Linked DNA regions of Homo sapiens. The protein of the gene in region 7 purifies or fractionates together with the protein of the main gene of each other region. This does not show direct contact. Each region holds a gene or a part of one and is shown on either strand. Other genes may lie near its edges. The genes, in order: PTPN23, SNTB2, MIDEAS, AKR1A1, GNPDA2, PPIL3 and SNX12.

Region 1 (3,500 bases), on a different chromosome or scaffold from region 7:
GGCAAGTCTGTGGCCCATGAGGACATCAAGTACGAGCAGGCCTGTATTCTCTACAACCTTGGTGAGCTGCCTGATCCCTTCCCCCGGCCCTACTCCCCAGTCCTGCCAGCCTAGCTTTCAGCTCTTCAGATGGCCACAAAGGCAGTGGGCTGATAAAGGGAGGACTCCAGGATTCCCGCCCCTCCACTGACCTCCCCACAGCCCTGCCAGCTCCTCCACTGTTTTCTGGGCTGGGCCCGTGGGGAGCCTCTGCTGGGGCGAGGCTCTACTGGGCTGGCTGCCACACAGAGTTGCCACTGTGTGCTCTGTCTGGGAGAGAGGGCCTTTCTTCTTTGACTGGACAGCCCCTCCCCACTGTGGTTTTGGGCTGCTTCAGGCAGGAGGAGAGTGTGGCTGGCCTCAGCTTACCCTGCTAGTCAGCCTTAGCCTGGCTCAAGGGAGAAGCTTGGGGAGCCCCAGAGTTCTGTGCAAACATCCCTGAAGCTTCAAGATTGGACCCCTTGGACAGGAGCCCTTCCATCCTCTGCCAAATGCAGAGCAGGAGACTGAGGGCTGGGCAGGACTTCTGAGTTTCCCTGTTCCCTCCAGCTTGGGTGTCCTTGGACTCGTTGCCCTGGTTCTCAGAGCCATGTTGTCCTGATTGTGGATAACAGCAGTGCCCCCTCTGTCTCACCTTCACATGGGTGTGAGCAGCCCCAGGCCCCTAACACTGTCCCCTCCCTCCCCAGGAGCGCTGCACTCCATGCTGGGGGCCATGGACAAGCGGGTGTCTGAGGAGGTGAGGAGAGGGGCAGTAGTGGAACATGTGGACATACCAGGGAGGGGCAGCCTCCCAAGTATGGATGAATCCTGACCCATGGAGTGGACACAGGCCATCCTCCCACTCCCTCCCAGGGCATGAAGGTCTCCTGTACCCATTTCCAGTGCGCAGCCGGCGCCTTCGCCTACCTACGGGAGCACTTCCCTCAAGCCTACAGCGTCGACATGAGCCGCCAGATCCTTACGCTCAACGTCAACCTCATGCTGGTGAGGAGGCGCCCTGGTTGGAGTGGAGTTGAATCCAGGGAAGGGGATGGCCAGGGAGGGGGCAGTTGGGCCTGGATCCTGGACCAAGGCAGTGAGGGACAAGCAAGGGGCCTTGGCTTTGTTGAATCAGGAGCACCGTGGTGCTGCTTGGAGTGGGGGCAGCTGGGGGAGAGGGCAGTGAAGAGGGATCCCTCAGTCTGCCCCTGGGGAAGGATAAAGGGAAGGGGAAGCGGGAGGCCTTGGGTGAGCGAGGGAGTGCACCTCACGTGTCGCCCCAGGGCCAGGCTCAGGAGTGCCTCCTGGAGAAGTCGATGTTGGACAACAGGAAGAGCTTTCTGGTGGCCCGCATCAGTGCACAGGTAGGGACGGGGCTGAGGGGAGGCCTTCACTTTACTGCTGACTCCCCCACTCATTGGGCCCCACCCTGTTCTCAGGTGGTAGATTACTACAAGGAGGCATGCCGGGCCTTGGAGAACCCCGACACTGCCTCACTGCTGGGCCGGATCCAGAAGGACTGGAAGAAACTTGTGCAGATGAAGATCTACTACTTCGCAGCCGTGGCTCATGTGAGGGCCTGGGGCCCCAGGGCGGGGCAGGGCGGGGCTGAGTGGCCACAGCTCAGGAAGCAAGTCGTGGCGTCTCTTCTTCTTTCCCAGCTGCACATGGGAAAGCAGGCCGAGGAGCAGCAGAAGTTCGGGGAGCGGGTGAGCTACAGCGAGGAGGGGACTGGGGACCAATGGCAGCCTTCAGTGAGATGCCGGTGTGCTCCCGCTCCTTACACACCAGGGGGTGGCCTTCTCTGTCTCACCCTGGCCATCACCCTGCTGGAGGCCTGGTGTCTTAAGTGTTGTCCCATCTGTGCAGCCCTCGTCCCTCGGGGTCTGAGGAGGTGGGGCAGGCTCCCTACAGAGCAGGTGGCTGGGGCAGGGTGTGGCGCCACCTTGCTGCTGTTGGCTGGGGTGGTGCCCGGCTGCCTCCTGAGCTGCTTGTCATCTGATGGACAGGCAGGGCCGGGTGGGAGGCAGGAGGAGAAAGGGTCCAAGCAGAGGAGGACAGAGCAGGCTTTCCTGCCACCCTCCACAGGTTGCATACTTCCAGAGCGCCCTGGACAAGCTCAATGAAGCCATCAAGTTGGCCAAGGTAAAGCTGAGGAAGGCCTGGCTGCCCTGAGGGTATAGGAGCAAGCCCGGTAGGACTGAGGGGGTGTCCTGGTGCCAGCCTTGGTTAGTGCTAAGGCCCCACCCCTGTCCCTAACCCCACAGGGCCAGCCTGACACTGTGCAAGACGCGCTTCGCTTCACTATGGATGTCATTGGGGGAAAGTGAGTCTGTGGGGGTGGCCCTGGTTCCCTCTTTTTGTGAAGGGTCTTGTCCCTCTGCTGGCATCTACATGGGAAGTAGGTTCTGGATCCCCACTGACACCCCGTGACTGCCCACTCCCCCTGCTCCTGATCCCCAGGTACAATTCTGCCAAGAAGGACAACGACTTCATTTACCATGAGGCTGTCCCAGCATTGGACACTCTTCAGCCTGTAAAAGGTCGGGGAGCTGAGAGGTGGGGGCAGAGGTGACGGTGGGGTGGGGACAGGACACAGGAGGCTGCCTCAAGGACTCTGCGTGGGCCTGATCTCCACAATTCCCACCCCCCCAGGAGCCCCCTTGGTGAAGCCCTTGCCAGTGAACCCCACAGACCCAGCTGTTACAGGCCCTGACATCTTTGCCAAACTGGTACCCATGGCTGCCCACGAGGCCTCGTCACTGTACAGGTGGGTGGAGGGTGGCACAGAGGGAGGTGGGGTGTCTTGAGATGTGGGTCTTCAGCAAATGCTCTGTCGCTTCTGCAGTGAGGAGAAGGCCAAGCTGCTCCGGGAGATGATGGCCAAGATTGAGGACAAGAATGAGGTCCTGGAGTGAGTGTGGGACTTGGGCAGGGAGGCGGAGGCAGGCAGCACTTCCCGGGCCTCTGGGGGCCCCAGGGCTGCCTATGCTGGGAGAGGAATGAAATGTCCATTCCAAACAGGTTTCCCAATGCTGCCTTCCCGCCTGGGGTGGTGGGGCTAGTGTGTAAGGCAGGAGTCATGTCTTGGGAGGAGGAGGTGCCTTCTGTTCCACTGTTTCCAGCAGTGCCCTGGGCATGTTCTGTGAGACCAGGCCAGACCTGGTAGTAGGGGTCCGAGGTCACAATTTGCTCTCTGCTGAGACCTCAGATTGAGTGGTGAGGCTTGCCCTAGCGGCTCCTTTGACATGGTCAGAGTTGGATCAGCACCCAGCACCCACCTGGCCCTGTTGCTCCCCACAGCCAGTTCATGGATTCAATGCAGTTGGATCCCGAGACGGTGGACAACCTTGATGCCTACAGCCACATCCCACCCCAGCTCATGGAGAAGTGCGCGGCTCTCAGCGTCCGGCCCGACACTGTCAGGAACCTTGTACAGTCCATGCAAGGTGAGTAAGGGGCAGAGCAAGCAGGTGGAA
Region 2 (3,500 bases), on a different chromosome or scaffold from region 7:
TTCAATTATAAAGTAATACATATTCATAGTGAAAAAAGTAATAACAACATTACAGAAAGACATAAAAGGAAGAAAAGATGCCCCCTCTTTCTTTCACCCCTTTAGTCTTATTTGACACCCTAGAGGTAAAGCCATTAACAGTTTCTTGTGTGTCTGTTCAAAATTTTTTCTACACATATACATGTATATATGTAGAATAACTTAAAATGTGGAACCCCAAAAATGCATCTCTCACCTCAGACAGATGTTTTCCTCTGTATAACTGAGTTAACAGAGTCATATAATACTGCAACATGTCCTTAAGTTTGTAAAGCTGTAGGTATGATGTTCTTGTTAGGTACACCTCACCTGTTTTCCAGATCCGGCATGCTTAGGTTTCTAGCAGCAAAGCACATTTTGAGAGGGATGATCTTCCTGTCCTTGGTGCTGTTCTGGTGTTTTGGCGAACCAGAGTCCTCACTGCCACTAAAGCTTGGTGACTGGGGGGCTGCACCTTCCCACGGCAGATCTGATACTAATGATGGCTTCTTGATATATGGTGTTACTTCTCGGATGAACTTGACTATGAACAAAAAAATCAAAGAAGAAGGTTAGTAATTTTGCTTCCTATAATAAATGATAACTAAAGTATTCACATACATGCTATATCTATAACAAAGTGGAGGAAAGAGCTGGGCGCGGTGGCTCACTCCTGTAATCCCAGCACTTTGGGAGGCCGAGGCGGGTGGATCACTTGAGGTCAGGAGTTCAAGGCCAGCCTGGTCAACGTAGTGAAACCCCATCTCTACCAAAAATACAAAAAATTAGGTGAGCGTGGTGGCATGCGCCTGTAGTCCCAACTACTCAGGAAGCTGAGGCAGGAGAATTGCTTGAACCCGGGAGGCGGTGGCTGCAGTGAGATTGTGCCACTGCACTCCAGCCTGGGCGACAGAGCAAGACTCTGCCTCAAAAACAAACAAACAAACAAACAAACAAAAAATGGGGGAAAAAAGTAAGTTAAAGAGCCATGAATCCCCTGGAGATAGATTCTAAGACAGACCCATCTAGGCTTTAGATGATTCAACCTTTAGAAACTTCTCCATACTTCTACCCACTGGTTCCCTGTCTTCTCAAGCCATATAGAACAAACTTAATCTCTCTTCTACATGAGAACTCTGTAATTATCTGAAGACAGATTTTTCTCTTCTCTCTCCTCCCCATACTAAGCTAAGTATTTCTATTTCCATTCAACTCAATCAACTTTTATTAGCTACCTACCAAGTGTTGGGAATTAGGCTAGCCAGTAAAGACACAAGGGCAAATGAGCCATGGATTCTATCCCTCAAGGAATGCCCAGCCTTGCAGGGGAGACAGCTATGTAAACAGGCCATTACAGTTCTTAAAATCAAGTGCAAAAATAAAGTATATTCAAGATAAGGTATGATCTAATAAGCACAAAGCCAACTCAACTGATCCCCCTTGCTTGTTCAAAATACTCTATTTCCATTAATGTGGCCCCAAATGAAAATCAAGCTTTTAGTAGATAGGAAGCTTTTTTAAGTTCAAATTTAAAACTCATAAAATACTTGTTTTACTTCAGTCATGACTACAATTACTGTCACTCGAGGCATGGTGTTCTTGTTTCAAAAACTAGACAAACTGGCTGGGCACAGTGGTACACACAGTTTCTCCTGTGAATAGGTAATACATGCACATAAAACAAAACTCAAGAGGTATAAAAGGTTTTATAATAAAAGTCCAGATTTCTAGCTACCCTGTCTCCATTCCTAGAGGCAACCATTCAAAGAGATGCCTGGTATGCTAAGCATGTATGAAAATAAACACATACACATGCGTGTATATCTGATCATACATATGGTGGTACATTATGCTTACCGTGCTGCACCTTAGTTTTTTTATTTAATAAGGTTGATAGTCTTTTATAGGCCTAATAGTTGATAGCTCATTCTACAGCATGATGTGGTCATAGAGATGCCTTTGGAATCAAGAAGACCTTGTTCAAATCCTAACTGTGCTTGCTATTCAAAGCTATGTGACCGCACTTAACTGTTCTGAGGTCCTCATCTACAAAATGGGAGTAACACTAAGCAAATAAAAATTTCAGGCACATACTAAACATTCAATAAATACAGTAGGTACCTTTCTTTTTCCTTCCCTAAATTAGAAAGTTAGAGAAGAGTTAAAAAATTTTAATGGTAATCAGTAGAAGAGTTAAAGTTATTTTCTTATACGTTATTAAAAAAGATTTACTGAAATTAAGTATAATAATAAAAAATATAACAATTCCAATGCTAGAATTTAGATGTAGTATATCTCTGTGCTTTTTGTGCATAGTTATAATACACGTGCTTCTGGGTAGCTGCCTCAGGTCACCAAGGAGATTTTTTTACCCTAGAAAAATCAGCAGGAGTGCAGTCAGTATAACCCTTGAGCAGCTGACTCAAGCATTTCAATACATACTTCAGCTTTATGCTTTGAAGGACTTTGGCAGAAATTCCTAAGGTTTCCAGTTACTGCAAATGGCAGAGGCATGCTTTTTGAACATTTAAGGCAGTACACTATTGGGCTACCAACTGGAGGAAATTAAAGACATTCTAAATGAATTCTTGAATAATATAGTGGTTAGAAAAGAACCCTTAACGATCTACTCAGTTCATTCAATCACACAGTAGCATCACTGAACTGATTACTACACACATCCTAAAACAAAAACAGACATACACATACAATTTATGTATTGCCTTATTAAAAGAGCAATGAATTTTATCTGAGTTGATGGCAATGCAGTCCATACCCCCATCTAATTAGCCATCCAGAATGGCTGAAGAGCTGTGGATGGACATCTGTTTCTATGTTTGGGAATGGCAAAAAGTTAACAGTCTTCTGTTTCAGTCCTATGTTAAGGCCTTAACCTGGACACGTGGCTGGATAAGCAGAGCCTTTACACCCCCACATGGAGCTTTCAGTTCAACTCAGAATCCACAACATATTTCAGAATCATTTCATTTTTCCTGATAGTTGAAGATAATCCTCAAAATAATTTAATTAAACACTGATGTTTACAAACTGTTTTGAGTGTTCAGATGCTGAAGCTAATTTTCTTTCTTCCATTCATGTATCCCTTTTTTTTTTTTTTTTTTTTTAAGATGCAGTCTCACTCTGTCGCCCAGGCTGGAGTGCAGTGGCACAATCTCAGCTCACTGCAAACTCTGCCTCCTGGGTTCACGCCATTCTCCTGCCTTAGCCTCCCCAGTAACTGGGACTACAGGCGCCCGCCACCACGCCCGGCTAATTTTTTGTATTTTTAGTAGAGACGGGGTTTCACCGTGCTAGCCAGGATGGTCTCGATCTCCAGACCTCGTGATCCACCCGCCTTGGCCTCCCAAAGTGCTGGGATAACAGGCTTGAGCCACTATGCCCGGCCTCACGTATCCCTTTTACTGAACGTGAAGGTGGGCTTCCTCCCACCCCAAAAGCATTACTGTGATCCCTTCTCTTCT
Region 3 (3,500 bases), on a different chromosome or scaffold from region 7:
TGGACTTTCTGGCCAGACCTCTCTCTCCTGGGTCTGTAGGCCGGAAGCTCTGCGTGCCTGCAGAGCCCCACACTGTTGCTAGGACTTTGAGTCTCCCTGTCCCGCCCTTGCCTGGCCAGCCTTGCTCTCAGCCAGCTGTGGAACTGGAAGAGTTGGACTATTCATTTCCTCCAAGGTGTTAAAGACTGATAACGATGTCTGAGCCACCCCTACCCAGCAAGGGAGACAGGAAACACATTTATTGAGTGCGTACCCTGTGCCAGGCGGCGCTTCATCTATGTATTACCTCATTGAATCCCACAATAACTGAGATGAAACTGTTGTGCCCATTCACCAATAGGGAACCCCAGGCTCACAGAGGCTGGTGATTGGAGAAGCCAGCACACATTGCCCCTGACTACTTTTACCCTGCAGCTCCCACACTTCCTCCGGCTATTTTCATGTGCACAAGGAACAATGCTTTGATCCTTGGTATGAAGTGCTGATAGTAGGAATTCAGGCACCATTAGACTGGCTGGTAGGGGAGATATCTTGGGCTGGGAAGGGTGGGGAAGACCTCCCTGCTGCCTCCCTCTCCAGATGCTTCACAGGGCAGCCAGGAGCCCAGCCTTGAGCCCTGAGGCCCTTCTGTGGAGGACTCAGCTGTGGGCCTGGGGACTGCTCGGCCAGGCACATGCACAGGAAGAGGGGAAAGGCTTGGTTTCAGCTTAGTGTGGGCTTCCTGGGGACCTCCCAAGTGTGTCCTCCCCCTTAAAGGTATCCCAGCCTCTGAGGTACTGAGAACAGCTCTGGGGAATCAAAGGCTGGGGCTAGGTGGAATCTTTGGTCTCCCTTCTTGGCTGCTGGGTCTGACCTGGGGCCCATCATTCCAGCTGGCTTGGCCCAGGTCCCAGAGAGTCTGGTTGGTGTGTACTTGGGGCTTGGGCTGGATGCTCTGCTGTGCCCGCATGCTGTGCCAAAGGCCTCTGGGTGTATTTCAGGAACAATAAAGAATAAATCAACATAGGAGAAAAGGCCCTGCAGCAGCTGCTCAGAGACTGGAGAAATGCAAAGAATGTGTGAGCCTTTGGCAAAAGTCTTGCATCTTGACCAGGGCCTGAGGAAGGGCGTGAGGCTGATGTGATGGCTCTGGAGTCAAATGGGCGTCTGTCTGTGCCCAGTTTGCAGCCCTTCTAGGAGGCCCCAGGCAGCCACACTGAGACTCCCCTCCCTCTGCTGGTGGCAAATTTTTTTGCTTCCTGGTCGCTAGCATGTACTAGGGAGCCATATTGCCCCCGTTCTTTACTCTCACACTACACTGCCAGACACCGACCCATCCAACCCCCAAGCACCAGGTGGGTCTTGGCCCTTTCCAGCCCTGACCAGTCAGGAGAGCCTGGGTTGATGAAGACTTGGTAGGCTTGACACACATGCTACACCCCCTGCTTTACCTCCCCCAGACGAATGTCAAGGACCTGGCAATGCCAGGTCTAGGGGTGCTAAGTGTGAGAACATCTACCTGGGAGGCCGTCACTATAGCTCTGCTCAGGTAGTCAGCCATGTGTCCTTAGGCAGGTCATTTTACCTTTGAGGTCTTGGTTCTATGAGCCATGAAATTGAGGTTTGGACAAATGATCTTTGGAGTGAGTGGGCACCTCTGTCTCCTCTACTCGGGATGTGCGATGAATATATTTTATTTAGGAAGTTAAGTTATTGGGAGAAGCAACACTCTGAGAGCACCATGTGGAGATATGGGTGGCTGTGGCTGGGGGCTAATGCTCAGTGTCCTGAGTGGGGGAACCCAAGCAGAGACCTGATTTGACCCAGAGCTCAGGGTGCCAGGAGAAGGGACAGGAGCCTAGACTCCATGGGGACTTGAGTTATCTGACAAGCAGGGGAGAGCCAAGACTTTATTTATTTTTTTGAGACAGAGTTTTGCTCTTGTCGCCCAGGCTGGAGTGCAGTGGTACGATCTTGGCTCACTGCAACCTCTGCCTCCTGGGTTCAAGCGATTCTTCTGCCTCAGCCTCCCGAGTAGCTGGGATTACAGGTGTGCGCCACGATGCCTGGATAATTTTGTATTTTTAGTAGAGACAGAGTTTCTCCATGTTGGTCAGGCTGGTCTCATAAACTCCTGACCTCAGGTGGTCCAGCTGCTTTGGCCTCCCAAAGTGTTGGGATTACAAACGGGAGCCGCTGCATCCGGCCTGGCTTTATTTTTAAAGAGCTGTTGGCTAACCTCAGTTGTGGGGTTGGAGGGTGTGGAAGGGGTGTGACTTCCTCTTAGGCAAAGATGCCGAGCCCTCCACAGGTTGGCCCACTGGAGGTAATCACCTGTAGCCTCTTCACCTTCAAAGCCACTCACCTGCCCGGCCTCTCCCACCCACTTTACCCGACCAGCCACATCTCAGAACATCATGGTGGTTTTCAGGGGCTGAAGCTGCTCTCCAGGGAGCAGACGTGAGCAACCCAGAGGCTGCTGCTGTCTATCCCAGGCAGCCTGGTGTGACCTCCAAGTCTGAAACTCTTGGGGGAGGAAGTTTGCAGAACAGGCAGGCCTAGGTGCCAGTCCTGGCTTTGCCTCTATACTGCTGTGACCTTAGGCAAGTGATTTGACCTAAGGTCTTCTCAGATTTCTTGTTTAGAAAGGAGGAGTAATAATACCTACCTTGATGGCCTGGTGTGGTGGCTCACGCCTGTAATCTCAGCACTTTGGGAGGTTGAGTTGGGAGGATCCCTTGAGGCAAGGAGTTCAAGACCAGCCTGAGCAACAAAGTGAGACTCCATCTCTACAAAAATAATAATGATAATATCTACCTTTCTGTGAGATGATTACACAGGATAATGTGTGTAGTGTGCTTAGCACCATGCCTGGCACATAGTAGCACCTTCAATGGAAATTTTGGAGGTATTGATGAAGCCTTGTTTGTGTGATGTTGGGATAAACCTTGGCTCCATGCTTTGCCCAGTGTCTTGCCAAGTGGTGGGGCCTGCCTAAATGGAGGCATGAAGCATTGTTATTGGAGTCCTTGATTTTGCTCCTGGCTGTGTGTCCTCGGACGAGTTTATTTCCTTCTCTGGACTGCTCTGTGGAACGAGGAATTGGAGTAGGTAAACATTGACATCCCTTGATATTTGGAATCTGTTCAGCTTTCCCAGCTGGGCCCTGCTTTGCCAGTTGGCTCTGAAGAGAGGCCCAAGCCACCTTTCTCCATGTGGCATGGAGGCTTTTATTCCAGAGTGAGATGGTGCTGAGCCTGCAGCCTCCAGCTCACCTCTGCAGTCCCCCATACCTCAACACCCTTTGGGCTCTCTTGGCTTCCAGGGGCTTTTACAGATACCCCCAGTCTGGAGGGGAAACTGTTTCTGGCTGACTGGGGCTAGGATAATTTCTTAAGAGGAGTGTTAATAGACCATGCTGTGCTTGGAAATGCCCCCAGGGAAGAGCAGCAGCTCCGGAGCTGGCTTTGTGAAGTTCTCAAGTGTAGCATTCCTTCTGAGGCCCACCGGTGTAGATTTCA
Region 4 (3,500 bases), on a different chromosome or scaffold from region 7:
TCGGCACCCGGGTGGGGATCTTGAATACTATGTCAGGCACCCACAACAAGAGCTTTGGGTGCTTTGTGTCTAGGGCCGGGTACCCTTGTTTCTGCTGCTGATGCCGTGTTTCCAGTCTGGATTTTAGCAAAATTAACTGACCCATCCTTCTATCTGATGCCTGTTTTCTTCTCTCTCATTAGGGAGTTCTGGGTCCAGCTTTTAGCCCACTTATCTGCCTCCAGCTTTCAGCCTACTTATCTGCCTTCCTTAATCTTTTCCCCCTTCTAACCTCTTTTGCTGGCCTGTGCTCCCAGAGTTCCCAGAGTCTGTCTACACAACTCCCTGTATGTCCTTGGCCTAGGAATTTTTTCCTGTGTTTCTCTAACCAGCTCCTTAGAACCTGGAACTTGTTTCCATGGTCTATACTTCTTTTCTCTATTTATCCATCTGTCTTCTGATTGAAAAAAAAAATTATTTATTTTTGAAAATTTTTAAATTTTTATTTATTTATTTATTTATTTAATTTTATTTTTGAGATGGAGTCTTGCTCTGTCGCCCAGGCTGGAGTGCAGTGGCGCAATCTCGCCTCACTGCAAGCTCCGCCTCCTAGGTTCACACCATTCTCCTGCCTCAGCCTCCTGAGTAGCTGGGACTACAGGCACCCCCTACCACGCCCAGCTAATTTTTTGTATTTTTAGTAGAGACGGTGTTTCACCGTGTTAGCCAGGATGGTCTCGATCTCCTGACCTCATGATCCACCCACCTCAGCCTCCCAAAGTGCTGGGACTACAGGCGTGAGCCACCACACCCAGCCATTTTTTTTTTTTTTTTTTTTTTTTTGAGAAGGAGTTTCACTCTTGTTGCCCAGGCTGGAGTGCAATGGCATGATCTTGGCTCACTGTAACCTCCACCTCCCAGGTTCAAGCGATTCTCCTGCCTCAGCCTCCCAAGTACCCGGGATTATAGGCATGCACCACCACGCCCAGCTAATTTTGTATTTTTAGTAGAGACGGGGTTTCTCCGTGTTGGTTAGGCTGGTCTCAAACTCCCGACCTCAGGTGATCCACCCACCTCGGCCTCCCAAAGTGCTGGGATTACAGGTGTGAGCCACCGCGCCTGGCTTTTATTTAAAAAAAAAAATTTGTTTTCAATTTTTTGTTGTTATTTTTTTTGTGTTTTTTTGAGACGGAGTCTCACTCTGTCTCGCCCAGGATGAAGTGCAGTGGCATGATCTCAGCTCACTGCAGCCTCCCCCGCCTGGGTTCAAGCGATTCTCCTATCTCAGCCTCCTGAGTAGCTGGGACTACAGGCATATGCCACCATGCACAGCTAATTTTTGTATTTTTAGTAGAGAAAAGAATTTCACCATGTTGGCCAGGCTGGTCTCAAACCCCTGACCTCAGGTGATTCACCTGCCTCTTCTTCCCAAAGTGCTGGGATTATAGGCGTGAGCCACCACGCCTGGCCTTAATTTTTTTTTTTTTTTTAAAGAGGTGGGGGTCTCACTATGTTGACTAGGCTGGTCTTGAACTTCTGCCTTCAAGCAATGCTCCCATGTCAGCCTCCCAGAGTCCTAGGATTACAGGCGTGAGCCACTGTGCTCAGCCTGAAAAAATATTTACTGAAGCCCTCTTTATGGTAGATGCCGGGAAAATATTGTTAGTTTTTGCTAGACCTTGCTGAGATGGCTTGGGTAGGAAGGCATCTTAGAGACTGGTTGGGGTGGGAGCAGAGCAAAGGGTTTGGAGCCTCTGAAGAGGCTTCTGGTCCCTTAGACTGAAACCATCTTCCATCTTTTTTTTTTTCTTTCTTTGTTTTGAGATGGAGTTTCGCTCTTGTTGCCGAGGCTGAAGTGCAGTGGCACAATCTCAGCTCACTGCAACCTCTGCCTCCTGGGTTCAAGTGATTCTCCTGCCTCAGCCTCCTGAGTAGCTGGGATTACAGGCACCTGCCACCACACCTGGCTAATTTTGTATTTTTAGCAGAGATGGGGTTTCACCATGTTGGCCAGGCTGACCTCCAGCTGGCCAGGCTGGTCTCGAACTCCTGACCTCAGGGGATCTGCCCACCTCAGCCTCCCAAAGTGCTGGGATTACAGGCGTGAGCCACCGCGCCCAGTTCATCTTCCATCTTTTCACCTCCACTGCATAGATGTGCCTGTTATATTTCTGAGCCCCCTTCCCCCAGCATTGACCTTGGGGTGGTGACAGTAGAAGGCTGAAACCAACATAGCTGAAACCTCTGCTTCTCTCACCTGGCAGGTAAAAGCAGCTGTTAAGTATGCCCTTAGCGTAGGCTACCGCCACATTGATTGTGCTGCTATCTACGGCAATGAGCCTGAGATTGGGGAGGCCCTGAAGGAGGACGTGGGACCAGGCAAGGTAAGGACTGGGGTTGTAAATAGAGGTGGGATAAGAGAACTTAGAAGCTGAAGCTAGGGCTGGGGCCCAGCTGGAGGGAATCTGGCATCAGCTTCCTTCCAGTTCCTCTCCCAGAGTTGAGGGTGGGTGAGACCACGTGCTCATGGCTCTTCTCACTGTGGGCCCTGCCCCCTGCACTAGGCGGTGCCTCGGGAGGAGCTGTTTGTGACATCCAAGCTGTGGAACACCAAGCACCACCCCGAGGATGTGGAGCCTGCCCTCCGGAAGACTCTGGCTGACCTCCAGCTGGAGTATCTGGACCTGTACCTGATGCACTGGCCTTATGCCTTTGAGTGAGCCTTGCCAGAGCCTCATCTGGGGAATCAGGGGGTTGAGCAGGATGGTGTTAGTAACTTATTGTAAGTCACAGCAGCAGAGCAGGATAGGAACACTCATTTGCATGCCAAGCTGAGGAGCTTGACATGGGATCTTAGCCTCTTCTGCTACAGCAGCTTAGCTGTAGCTACAGGAGTTTAACTCTGGAAAAAGGAAGGCAGTCTCACATGGTGTGTACCCCAGGGTATGCACCTGTAACCCTCCTGCTCCCTTTATTCATTTAGAAAAGGTGCTGACTTTTCTGTTGAGCACCTGGGGTTACAGTAATAAGTAAGTCTCAGCAGAAGATGTGAGAAGAGCTCACCATTAGTGCCGTGCCCTGTGCTGGAAGAAGGGTGGATAACTCCCTGAGGATGAGTTAAGGAAGACTTCCTAGGGGAGAGGAGATATCTACGTCTAGGAAGAGGAGGGGGCATAGGCATTCCATGTAAACTTAACACCTGGGTTACGATCTGGAAGGATGAAAAAGCATGGCTTTTTTTGGCCAGGCGCGGTGGCTCACGCCTGTAATCCCAGCACTTTGGGAGGCTAAGGCGGGCGGATCACGAGGTCAGGAGATCGAGATCATCCTGGCTAACACGGTGAAACCCCGTCTCTACTAAAAATACAAAAAATTAGCTGCGCGTGGTGGTGAGCGCCTGTAGTCCCAGCTACTGGGGAGGCTGAGGCAGGAGAATGGCGTGAACCCAGGAGGTGGAGCTTGCAGTGAGCTGAGATAGTGCCACTGCACTCCAGCCTGGGCGGTAAAGCGAGACTCCATCT
Region 5 (3,500 bases), on a different chromosome or scaffold from region 7:
TTACCAAATTCCACTTGTAATTTATATATGTGTGTGTATATATAATCTACAGTTAAAAATAAGTTTTTTCCTTTGTAATGACAACGTGGTTTTCTATTATCAGTGTAAACTATCGCAGACAGCTAGCTAATTGCTATAAGAATAGTTCAACATCAACTAAACTAAAATCAAAATTTTTTGCCAGATTCTTTAATATTCAACTAAAAATACTAATGCTGTAAATTATCTGTATATAACTTATTATTAACTTAATAGAACACTGATCAAAATTACATGAATTTGATCTTCAATAGAGCTGTCCTGAGGTTAATTTATACTTGAAGTGGCCAAGTATGGTTGAGATAGTTGATTATCATTGGGGGAAATTTGGTTTTAAAGTCAGACGTAAAATTGTATCCTGTTTTAGCCACTTAGTATCTGTATGACCTGGGAAAGTTTATTGAAGTTCAGTATAGGTACATCATTTGTAAAAGAGGATTAATATTAAACATTCCAAAATTTGTGAGAATTAATCATGTTGTAACATGTATAAAATGCCTTACACAGTGCTTGGTATATAGTTGGTACTCCATAAGTGCTACTTCAGTCTTCTCTTTCTCTCTCAACTGTAAATGCGGAAATAATTGTCCCTTAGAATTACTGAATTCCTTGGGATTTTTACCGAATTCCCTCTAGGGACATCCAGGAAGACTGAAATCTTCTCTTTAAGATAGTTTTTACTTCTACCTAGCAGAGTCAATAACATTTACTTTCTTGATAGAATGGTTGTTTATTGGAGCAAGAAACCAAGTTAGACTATTGCTTTTCAAATTAGAAGGTTATCTGTTTTAAATAAAATTTACTAATATTACTTCAGTAATCCTAGAGAACATTTGCATACTCCTGCTTTGTACGTATGACTCAATTTTGAGATAATTAACCATTTGTACCTTCCAATATTCAGGCTAGACAGTAGATATTTGAGAGTGTCTGAGGGGTGCATAGACCATCTAATCTTTAGATTTTCTAAGCTCCACACCAAAATCTGGTAGAATTACTGGAGTACCACATACTTCAACTGCTTATATCAAAAAATGTTTTCACTCATTTACTATAATGCAAAAAAAGGCTCTTAGTTGTTTGAGGTTCATTATTAAAAGTGGCTGCTTGAAAATATCTTCATTTGTAGACTTTCTTTCCCCCTTGTTAATTTATTGACCTTACATAAGTATGCATGTGACAAATCTCTTGTAGACCCAAAGGTAGGAAATAGATTTTACTATGGGGAATAACACTGATAAGAACACTTGATTTTATTCCTTTGCCTGCCTTCCAGAAAGCATTCATAGCATAAAATAATGTTTAAGCCTGTAATTCTTATCCAAGATGTCTGGTAGAACTTTCCTCTTTCCTTATAACTTTAAATCATTTCGTACTTCTTTTCAGCTAATTTTTTTTGGGAGGGGGTTATGTTTCTTCAGTATAAACCACCTCAGTTCTCCTTTTGAAATAGATGTTGCATAAGTTATAATTATATATGTTTATCACTGACACCACTAAAAAGAATTTGACTTGGTTTTTTAACCAGTTTGTCTTAAGCTTCCTGTAGTTGTTTCCCCGCTCCTCCCCGCTCCCAAATATATTTTAAGAGAGTTCCTGTGCCTCTTACATTAACATCTTCACTGTAGTCATGGATGATCCAATGCCTGACATTTTATATGTACCATCTAAAGGACATAATTGTGCAGAGAGAGAGAAGGATTATTGCATTTTCTTTGAACTTTTCCTTATTTGGGATGCCCTATTATTGGATATGTATTCATGAAAGAATCTCATTTGTTGATCTAGGTTTATCATCATTGGATTTTTAGATGAGGATTGGCATCTGGGTCTTACAACTACCCTTCTTTTGTTCCAGGGTTTGGTTAATAAAAACTCTAAGAACTGTGCCAAATGGGATCAAAATATCAGCTTTATTAAAGGTAAAGTTGAAATAGAGATTGCAGTTTGGGCTTGAAGCCAGAATGGGGTTTTTCACTCCTGCCCTTTGAATTGGAAACAGTAGAATGAGAAGAGCTCAAAAATGTTAATCTGCTATTGCTCATTCCAGGGAATTAGAGCAGAGGTCCCTTTCCTCTGAGGGAAGAGGGAAAGAAAAAGGAGGAAATACATACTCAAATGTTCTAATTCCTCCTCTGATGGCAAACGTGTTCAGAGAAAGGGTAAAAGGTGTATCATGCAATTCCTGACTTAACCCCAGCAATAAGATATACAAACATGGATTTTTAAAAATAAAATCTAGGGCTGGGATCCGGTGGCTCACACCTATAATCCCAGCACTTTGGGAGGCTGAGGTGCGCAGATCACCTGAGGTTGGGAGTTCGACACCAGCCTGACCAACATGGAGAAACCCCGTCTCTACTAAAAAAAAATACAAAATTAGCTGGGCGTGGTGGTGCATGCCTGTAATCCCAGCTACTCGGGAGGCTGAGGCAGGAGAATCACTTGAACCTGGGAGGCCGAGGTTGTGGTGAGCTGATATCGTGCCATTGCACTCCAGCCTGGGCAACAAGAGTGAAACTCCGTCTCAAAATGAATAAATAAATAATTTTAAAAATCTAGTTTTACAATAAAATCTAAATATATAAACTTTTAAAATATCTTAACGCAGTAGTGTCTTGGGTTTTTTGTTGTTGTTGAGACAGAGTCTCGCTCTGTTGCCCAGGCTGGAGTACAGTGGCTTGATCTTGGCTTACTGCAACCTCCACCTCCCAGGTTCAAGCGATCCTCCTGCCTCAGCCTCCTGAGTAGCTGTGACTACAGGCACTTGCCGCCATGCCCGGCTAATTTTTGTATCTTTAGTGGAGATGGGGTTTTGCCACATTGGCCAGGCTGGTCTCGAACTCCTGACCTCTGGTGATCCACCTGCCTTGGCCTCCCAAAGTGCTAGGATTACAGGTGTGAGCCACTGCACCCGGCCTAATAGTGTTTTTAAAAAGTAAAAATAAAAGAAGACAGTGGAGAAAATGTTAACCTTCTGATTTGGTTGCATGCTTGGATTCTTTGCTTTGGTAGAAAAAGGAAATAACTAATGGGATCAAAAGTAAATTAACTGGAATGATTCTAGGGTAACTCACAAACTGAAGGAAAAGTTAAAACAACCAAGTCTTTGGAAAAACAGAGAACCTCAGATCTCAGAAGTAGAAACTCATCAATCTTCTCCCTGCAGTGCTGTCATCCAGTGCTTCAGTTCACCATGCTGTCTTCGTTAACTGTATCCCTGGTCAAGATTCAGATCCAGACAGATATTTTGATTGGCTCAGCCTGAGACAAGTGCTTATCTCTAGACCACAGTCACTTTACCTAAGAGGGATATAGGAAATTAAAATTGTTCCAGCCCCTCTGGTGAGGGGAGCAAGGCAGAAGAGAACAAGGTGGGAGGTGGAATAAACTATACCGAGCTGACCAAAGAATAGCAACCATACATTCATTTATCCAGCCATTATTTAATAAGTGCGTCC
Region 6 (3,500 bases), on a different chromosome or scaffold from region 7:
TACCACTTCGGATGCCAGTTCCAAGTCCCGATTGTGATCTGTACTATCTGACTAACCATGATATAATTTGGGATTTTTCATGCCCCCCAGCTCTGTTCAATAATTTTCAAAAATGGCTCATAGAACTTAGGAAAGCACTTTATTTATTACTATGGGCTATTATAAAGGTTACAACTCAGGAACAACCAAATGGAGGAGATGCATAGGGCAAAGTCTGAGAGAGGGGCACAGCGCTTCCATGCTCTTCTCGGGGTGTGTTACCCTCTTAGTATCTACTTGTGTTCACCAACCTGGAAGCTCTCAAACCCTGTTTAGGGTTTTTACGGAGGGCACATTAGGTAGGCACGATTAATTAAATCACTGGCCACTAGTGACTGGAACTCAATCTCCAGCCCTTCTCTCCTTCCCAGAGGTCAAGAATAGGAGGTCACTGAATGTTCCACCCCTCTAAAAATACATGGCTGATTCCTCTGGCAACCAGCCCTCCATACTGAAGCTATCTAGAACCCCACCAAGAGTCACCTCATTAGCATAAACTCAGGTATGGTTGAATGGGGTTTATTATGAACAATAAAATATTCCTTTCACTCCTGTCACTCAGGAAATTGCAAGGTTTTTAAAAGAACTATGCTGGAAACCACGGATGAAGTCCAAATATGTATGTCTTATTACAACACACTAGTCATAAAGATTTCTTTGCTACAGGAAATACATGGAGAAAGTATGTAGATGACACTATTAGCAATACTGCCCTACAATGAGAGTCCTAAAGTAGGTGACCACTCCACTTTGTACTTGTTTTTTTTTTTTTTGAGATGAAGTCTCGCTCTGGTCCCCCAGACTGGAGTGCAATGGTGTGATCTCGGCTCACTGCAACCTCTCCTCCTGGGTTCAAGCAATTCTCCTGCCTCAGCCTCCCAAGTAGCTGGGATTATAGGAGCCTACCACCACGCCTGGCTAATTTTTGTATTTTTAGTAGAGACGGAGTTTCAGCATGTTGGCCAGGCTGGTCTGGCCTGACCTCAGGTGATCCGCCCGCCTTGGCCTCCCAAAGTGTTGGGATTCAGGCATGAGCCACCAAGCCCAGCAGTTAATTGTTTAATTATAGTATTTCTTTCTTTTTTTTTTTTTTTGAGATGGAGTCTCACTTCCATTGCCCAGGTTGGAGTGCAGTAGCACTATCTCGACTCATTGTAGCCTCTTCCTTCAGGTTCAAGCAATTCTGCATCAGCCTCCCAAGCAGCTGGGACTACAGGCACATGCCCCCATGCCCAGCTAATTTTTGTGTTTTTAGTAGAGATGGGATTTCACCACATTGGCCAGGCTGGTCTCAAACTCTTGACCTCAAGTGATCTGCCCACGTCAGCCTCCCAAAGTGCTGGGGTTATAGGCATGAGCCACCACGTCTGGCCTAATTATGGCATTTCTACTTTTTGCTTCTGGATAACAACAAGAAGTAATAAAAATAGGAGAAGAGAAGACTGACAGTTAACAGCCTCCAGCAATCCCACTTCATGTTACCACCAAGAAAAAATATATTGAGAGCTATTCTTCAAATACAAGTTTTGGAAATTTCAGTCTAAAACATTTGCTAAGAAAGAGTGGCTTTTGATCTCTTGACCTCGTGATCTGCCCGCCTTGGCCTCCCAAAGTGCTAGGATTACAAGCGTGAGTCACTGCACCTGGTCATCTGACTGCATTTTGACTGCAACCCGTCACATGAGGTCAGATGTGGAATTTTCTACTTGTGGCATCATGTCAGTGCTCAAAAAGTTCCTAATTTTTAATTTTCAGATTAGGGATTCTCAACCACTGGTATGTACTTTAAAAAATTAACAGATTTGTAGGCCTGGCGCAGTGGCTCACGCCTGTAATCTCAGCACTTTGGGAGGCCAAGGCGGGCGGATCACGAGGTCGGGAGATTGAGACCATCCTGGCTAACATGGTGAAACCCCGTCTCTACTAAAAATACAAAAAATTAGCCGGGCGCGGTGGCGGGCGCCTGTAGTCCCAGCTACTTGGGAGGCTGAGGCAGGAGAATGGCGTGAACCCAGGAGGGTGAGCTTGCAGTGAGCTGAGATGGCGCCACTGCATTCCAGCCTGGGCGACAGAGTGAGACTCTGTCTCAAAAAAAAAAAAAAAAAAAAATTAGCAGATTTGCATTTTATTTTGCATTTTCACAAAATGGGTACTTCAACCAAAACATTTTGATTTTACCCCTAAATATAGACATTTAAGTCTTTAAATTATAAGTCTTAAAGGCTATCCCACCTTCTAGGTCAGTAAGAGAAACAGAGGAGGTAGAAAACATAGGTCTCAGGTAAAAAGTTAAAAAAACCCAGCAGGTAGAACTGAGGCAGTTAAGTAGAGTCAAGTATATGGGAAACGGACCCCTTGGAGAACTAGAGGAAAGTTACTGGATCATCTTCCCAGAAAAATGTGTGTGCATCTGTATACAACAAACAAGGAATTAATGAACCTAAGGTTAATCTTTGTTCTAAACTCTACAGTTTTGTCGCAAATCCAGTAAAATGAGTCCTGGTAATAACTGAACAATAATTTTGAATGATGTTGGTTAAGGGAGAAAATAAGAGGGAAACTGGGTTATTTACAAACATAAAAAAACTACTAGATGTTGTAATATTTCTTTTCTCCTTGATTATTATTAATGTGTAAATTAGATACATGTATATGGAATGAAAAAGAAAAGATCTGTCTAGATCTCACTGCAGCCTTGACACCCTGAGCCCAGCAATCCTCTCACTTCAGCCTCCCAAGTAGCTGGGACCATAGGTGTGAGCCACCACACCTGGATAATTTTTAAATTTTTTTGTAGAGACGGGGTTTCACTATGTTACCTAGACTGGGAGTCCTCTATTTTTAATTAACCTAATTTGGCATCCAAACTATTAAATAGAACAAACTCTAGAATTGTGCCTTGGTTTATTAAGCATGATAATTATTTGTTGAACGAACAGACAAATTGACTTCCCACTGATTTATAAAAGCAACTCCCAGACATAGTACTCTTAATAGATACCCTGGCAGAAACTGTGAAATACCTTCCTAGGAGCCATTCTTCTTACTCGGAGAAATCTAATTTTAGTAAGGGTGGCAATGTGGCTGAAATACATTTTCTACCCTCCATTGTAGGTAAGGAGTGGTCACATTACTAAGTTCTGGGTCTTCTGGGAAAGTTTTTTTTTTTTGAGACGGAGTCTCGCTTTGTCACCAGGCTGGAGTGCAGTGGCGCAATCTTGGCTCACTGCAATCTCCACCTCCAGGGTTCAAGCCATTCTCCTGCCTCAGCTTCCTGAGTAGCTGGAATTACAGGCACGCACCACCGCACCCAGCTAATTTTTGTATTTTTAGTAGAGATGGGGTTTCACCATGTTGGCCTGGATGGTCTTGATCTCCTGACCTCATGATCTGCCCTCCTTGGCCTCCCAAAGTGCTGGGATTACAGGTGTGAGCCACCGCACCCGGCTTTTCTTTTTTTC
Region 7 (3,294 bases):
TACACGGTGCTTTACCATCTCATTCCCACTCTGTCTCTCTCCCATGTGGCTGGAATTTTGTGTGTGCCTGCAGATTGTAGTACCACCACTGCCTGGGAAAGCCTTGAAGCGGCAGCTCCCTTTCCGAGGAGATGAAGGGATCTTTGAGGAGTCTTTCATCGAAGAAAGGAGGCAGGGCCTCGAGCAGTTTATTAACAAGTAAGCCAAGTTCCTGGGGGCTCCACTTGCTACTTTTGCCATCGTAGTCTTTCTATATGTTTTGTTTACCTCACCTTTTATTTTATTTTTATTTACTTATTTATTTATTTGAGACAGAGTCTCACTCTGTCACCTAGGCTGGAGTGCAATGGTGTGATCTCGGCTCACTGCAACCTCCGTCTCCTGGGTTCAAGTGATTCTCCTGCCTCAGCCTCCTGAGTAACAGGGATTACAGGCGCCGGCCACCATGCCCAGCTAATTTTCATGTTTTTAGTAGCGATGGGGTTTCACCATGTTGGCCAGACTGGTCTCGAACTCCTGACCTTAAGTGATCCACCTGCCTTGGCCTCCCAAAGTGTTGGGATTACAGGCGTGAGCCACCGCACCCAGCTCACCTTTTATAATGGGTACCATGATGTGGTGCCAATTGTGTGGTGGGCTGACTGGACAGTAAAACTCCATTCCTTTGAGTAGGATTCTGATCCTGTGTGTCAGGGCCTGAGAAAGCACTGCATGTTGGTTATATCTAGGGATTTCCCTGTCTTGCCCCTCTATCCCCCGTCCCCTTTACAATATTAGGGTTGAGGTGGTACCCTACTGCTGTCCTCTACTGGCTTGAACCTCAGGGCTGACCTTGCCCTTCTTCCCCTGTCCACATCCCCATCCCTCTGCTAATTCTCTCTGATTCTGAATACTACTGATAACCATCCTGGTTTCTTTATAGAATTGCTGGGCACCCACTGGCTCAGAATGAACGCTGCCTACACATGTTCCTGCAAGAGGAGGCAATTGACAGGAACTACGTCCCGGGGAAGGTGCGCCAGTAGGAGCCCCTCTCACCACCTGCCCTCTACTTTCCTGCTGAAATGACATTGGTTTTTACACTAAGCCTCTCTCTGTCTTTGATCTGAAGTTGGCTGCCCATCTCCTGGCCTGATAGACTGTCTGGCATTGTGCTCCCTGGTACCTGACTACACCATGTGGGCACTCTGCTAGGATCCTCTTCTCTGAGGAGAGGTGGGAACCCACAGGCAGATGCCCTTTGCTTGGGGTTGGGGTGGGTGGGTGGGGGGATTAGACTGGAAGGCAATTTCTTGGGCATTTACCCATGCCAGAAGGCTAACCTGGGGGGAGGGGGGCGCTTGTGCTGGTGAGGCACTTGGATACATACTGATGCTGCAAGTTCAGGGGATTTTTCTTACTCTTAGGTTTAACCAAGAACACTGAGCAGGGAAAAACCCTGCCTTTCCTAACTGCATGTATTTTTTCCTTTTTGGAAAGGTGGTAGAGACTCAGAAGCTTTCCTTGTTTTCTTCAGGCCTGCTCCCAGTTTTCTTAACAGTTTCTTTTGTTGCTTTCTCTCTCCCTTGTTGCTTTCCATGGCAGTAATCCTCCTAGAGTCCAAGCAGTCTGTTGTATGGAGCAGGGTGTGTGGGTTTTCTGGGCCCATCATTATGGCTGCTTCAGAGTCAGAAGAAAGCCATAGGGCAGTAGGGGAGCTCCTATTGCCTAGCCCCTCTCCCTTTGTGGCTCCCACTCTAGCTGCCTATTTTTGCTCATCAGCTGGTGAGTCAGTATGGGCCAGCAGTTCTCCCTCCCTAAGCCCTTGCTACTTTATGGGTTAGCTTTGCAGGTTTGGTGGCTTGAGGGGTGGGGGCAACTCACCACTGCCAGGTAACTCCCTGAAGGGTGGGAGTGGATTATCTTCTAGGCTCTTACCCGCGGTAGGGAAGGGCATCAACACTGTCTTCCTTCCATTCTCCTTTCCCCCATCCCATTTAGTGCTGCCACAGGGCAGAAGCACACAAACCAACCACACAGTCTCTGACTTCTCCTAAGCACTTTGAGTTGTTGAATGGGGCTCAGGGGCAAGAGTTTTTGCTGCCCTCCCCAGCGTGGTCACAGGGTTATTGAACTGCCTGCACTTGTTTCTCATGCAACTCCAGCATTTTCCCCAGAAGTTGAACTATGGATAGCAGCTTGGTATGGATTTCCTAAATCTTAACATTTGAAGCAGCTTCTTGAGGCTGGCAACTATCCTGGTTTCTGTCTTGGAGGGGGTGGTTTGTTTGCTGGGGCCCAACGTCTGTCCCAAGTGGTGGGGTGAGAGTAAGTTAACTTTGGTGCCAGGTGAGAGGTGGGGGCTCTTTGCTTAGACTCCCTATCATGGAAAGATTGGAGTTTTCTATGCAGGGCACTGTGGAAAAGGATTGCTGATTCTGACTGACCCTGATCAGAGAGATTAGGATTGTATTTTGACATAGGATTTGGAACCCATCTAAATGTTGAAGTTCCCTGAGACAGCTCTCCAGCTGCTGAGCCTGCGCCAGGGGCTAAGCAGCCCCTAATGAGAGGCTCTGCTCCCTTTCCCACCTCGCCAATGTTGTTGTTGCTGCCTTTTTGATTTGTATCCTCTGTTATAGACATTTTTTAAAAACGATTTCCTCTTTCATTGTGCACAAGTGCTGAGAGTCTGAGGCCCCATTTCTGCTGTGTATATATATCCTGACTCGGGGCTTTTATTCAGCAAACTGTTCATTCTTCTGTCAGACAATGTCATATTCAACTCTGTTCATATTAAACCACTGTGAAGCAAGCCTCTGTTTTCCTGCTTAAGTTGTAAATTTAGTATTCTTTAGTGTCTAGGATATGCTGGGTATTATGCAGAAATCATACAGTGTGGCCAGTGTCCTGAGGTAATGTTTTGCATTTAAATTTTTTTAGAAAGCAGAATCTTAACTTATCTTAATGATATTTACCTATCCTTTTTGCAACTCACAACTGACTTTGTCACAGAGGTAATGCATCTGCTTGCAGGAAGTAGCTGTAGGCTCAGTACCTGTTGTTTGAGTCAGATTTAGCAGATTTGGTTTTTAAGCTTGTGGGTTTGTGCTAATTTGGGCAGAATATATTTATTATATATGTGTGTGTGTATGTGTGTATGTGTGTGTCTGCATATGTAATACATGTACATAAACACACATGCATGTGTTCATCCTCTGACACACCCACACAACACCAACAAACATTTCTTCTATAGGCTTTTTATCTCAACTGACACTGTTTTTTTTCCCAAATAAATTTGACACAGGCAGA

Evidence for each region.
Region 1: the proteins of SNX12 (region 7) and PTPN23 purify together in Homo sapiens (affinity purification with mass spectrometry; one large-scale study listed by BioGRID and IntAct). This does not show direct contact.
Region 2: the proteins of SNX12 (region 7) and SNTB2 purify together in Homo sapiens (affinity purification with mass spectrometry; one large-scale study listed by BioGRID and IntAct). This does not show direct contact.
Region 3: the proteins of SNX12 (region 7) and MIDEAS purify together in Homo sapiens (affinity purification with mass spectrometry; one large-scale study listed by BioGRID and IntAct). This does not show direct contact.
Region 4: the proteins of SNX12 (region 7) and AKR1A1 fractionate together in Homo sapiens (co-fractionation; one large-scale study listed by BioGRID). This does not show direct contact.
Region 5: the proteins of SNX12 (region 7) and GNPDA2 fractionate together in Homo sapiens (co-fractionation; one large-scale study listed by BioGRID). This does not show direct contact.
Region 6: the proteins of SNX12 (region 7) and PPIL3 fractionate together in Homo sapiens (co-fractionation; one large-scale study listed by BioGRID). This does not show direct contact.

What each region holds. Positions count from the first base shown.
Region 1 is NC_000003.12:47,405,021-47,408,520, forward strand, and holds part of PTPN23 (tyrosine-protein phosphatase non-receptor type 23), read left to right. Parts: coding exon 1-61; intron 62-728; coding exon 729-778; intron 779-894; coding exon 895-1,026; intron 1,027-1,304; coding exon 1,305-1,385; intron 1,386-1,460; coding exon 1,461-1,592; intron 1,593-1,682; coding exon 1,683-1,730; intron 1,731-2,109; coding exon 2,110-2,166; intron 2,167-2,288; coding exon 2,289-2,347; intron 2,348-2,484; coding exon 2,485-2,564; intron 2,565-2,676; coding exon 2,677-2,791; intron 2,792-2,869; coding exon 2,870-2,935; intron 2,936-3,324; coding exon 3,325-3,470; intron 3,471-3,500. UniProt on the Homo sapiens protein: Plays a role in sorting of endocytic ubiquitinated cargos into multivesicular bodies (MVBs) via its interaction with the ESCRT-I complex (endosomal sorting complex required for transport I), and possibly also other ESCRT complexes.
Region 2 is NC_000016.10:69,242,664-69,246,163, reverse strand, and holds part of SNTB2 (beta-2-syntrophin), read right to left. Parts: intron 563-3,500; coding exon 349-562; intron 1-348. UniProt on the Homo sapiens protein: Adapter protein that binds to and probably organizes the subcellular localization of a variety of membrane proteins. May link various receptors to the actin cytoskeleton and the dystrophin glycoprotein complex.
Region 3 is NC_000014.9:73,750,304-73,753,803, reverse strand, and holds part of MIDEAS (mitotic deacetylase-associated SANT domain protein), read left to right. Parts: intron 1-3,500.
Region 4 is NC_000001.11:45,564,326-45,567,825, forward strand, and holds part of AKR1A1 (aldo-keto reductase family 1 member A1), read left to right. Parts: intron 1-2,243; coding exon 2,244-2,363; intron 2,364-2,543; coding exon 2,544-2,695; intron 2,696-3,500. UniProt on the Homo sapiens protein: Catalyzes the NADPH-dependent reduction of a wide variety of carbonyl-containing compounds to their corresponding alcohols.
Region 5 is NC_000004.12:44,713,057-44,716,556, reverse strand, and holds part of GNPDA2 (glucosamine-6-phosphate deaminase 2), read left to right. Parts: intron 1-1,897; exon of another isoform or gene 1,898-1,961; intron 1,962-3,500. UniProt on the Homo sapiens protein: Catalyzes the reversible conversion of alpha-D-glucosamine 6-phosphate (GlcN-6P) into beta-D-fructose 6-phosphate (Fru-6P) and ammonium ion, a regulatory reaction step in de novo uridine diphosphate-N-acetyl-alpha-D-glucosamine (UDP-GlcNAc) biosynthesis via hexosamine pathway.
Region 6 is NC_000002.12:200,872,078-200,875,577, forward strand, and holds part of PPIL3 (peptidyl-prolyl cis-trans isomerase-like 3), read right to left. Parts: intron 1-3,500. UniProt on the Homo sapiens protein: PPIases accelerate the folding of proteins. It catalyzes the cis-trans isomerization of proline imidic peptide bonds in oligopeptides. May be involved in pre-mRNA splicing.
Region 7 is NC_000023.11:71,058,747-71,062,040, reverse strand, and holds the end of SNX12 (sorting nexin-12), read left to right. Parts: intron 1-73; coding exon 74-198; intron 199-922; coding exon 923-1,025; 3' UTR 1,026-2,794; downstream 2,795-3,294. UniProt on the Homo sapiens protein: May be involved in several stages of intracellular trafficking.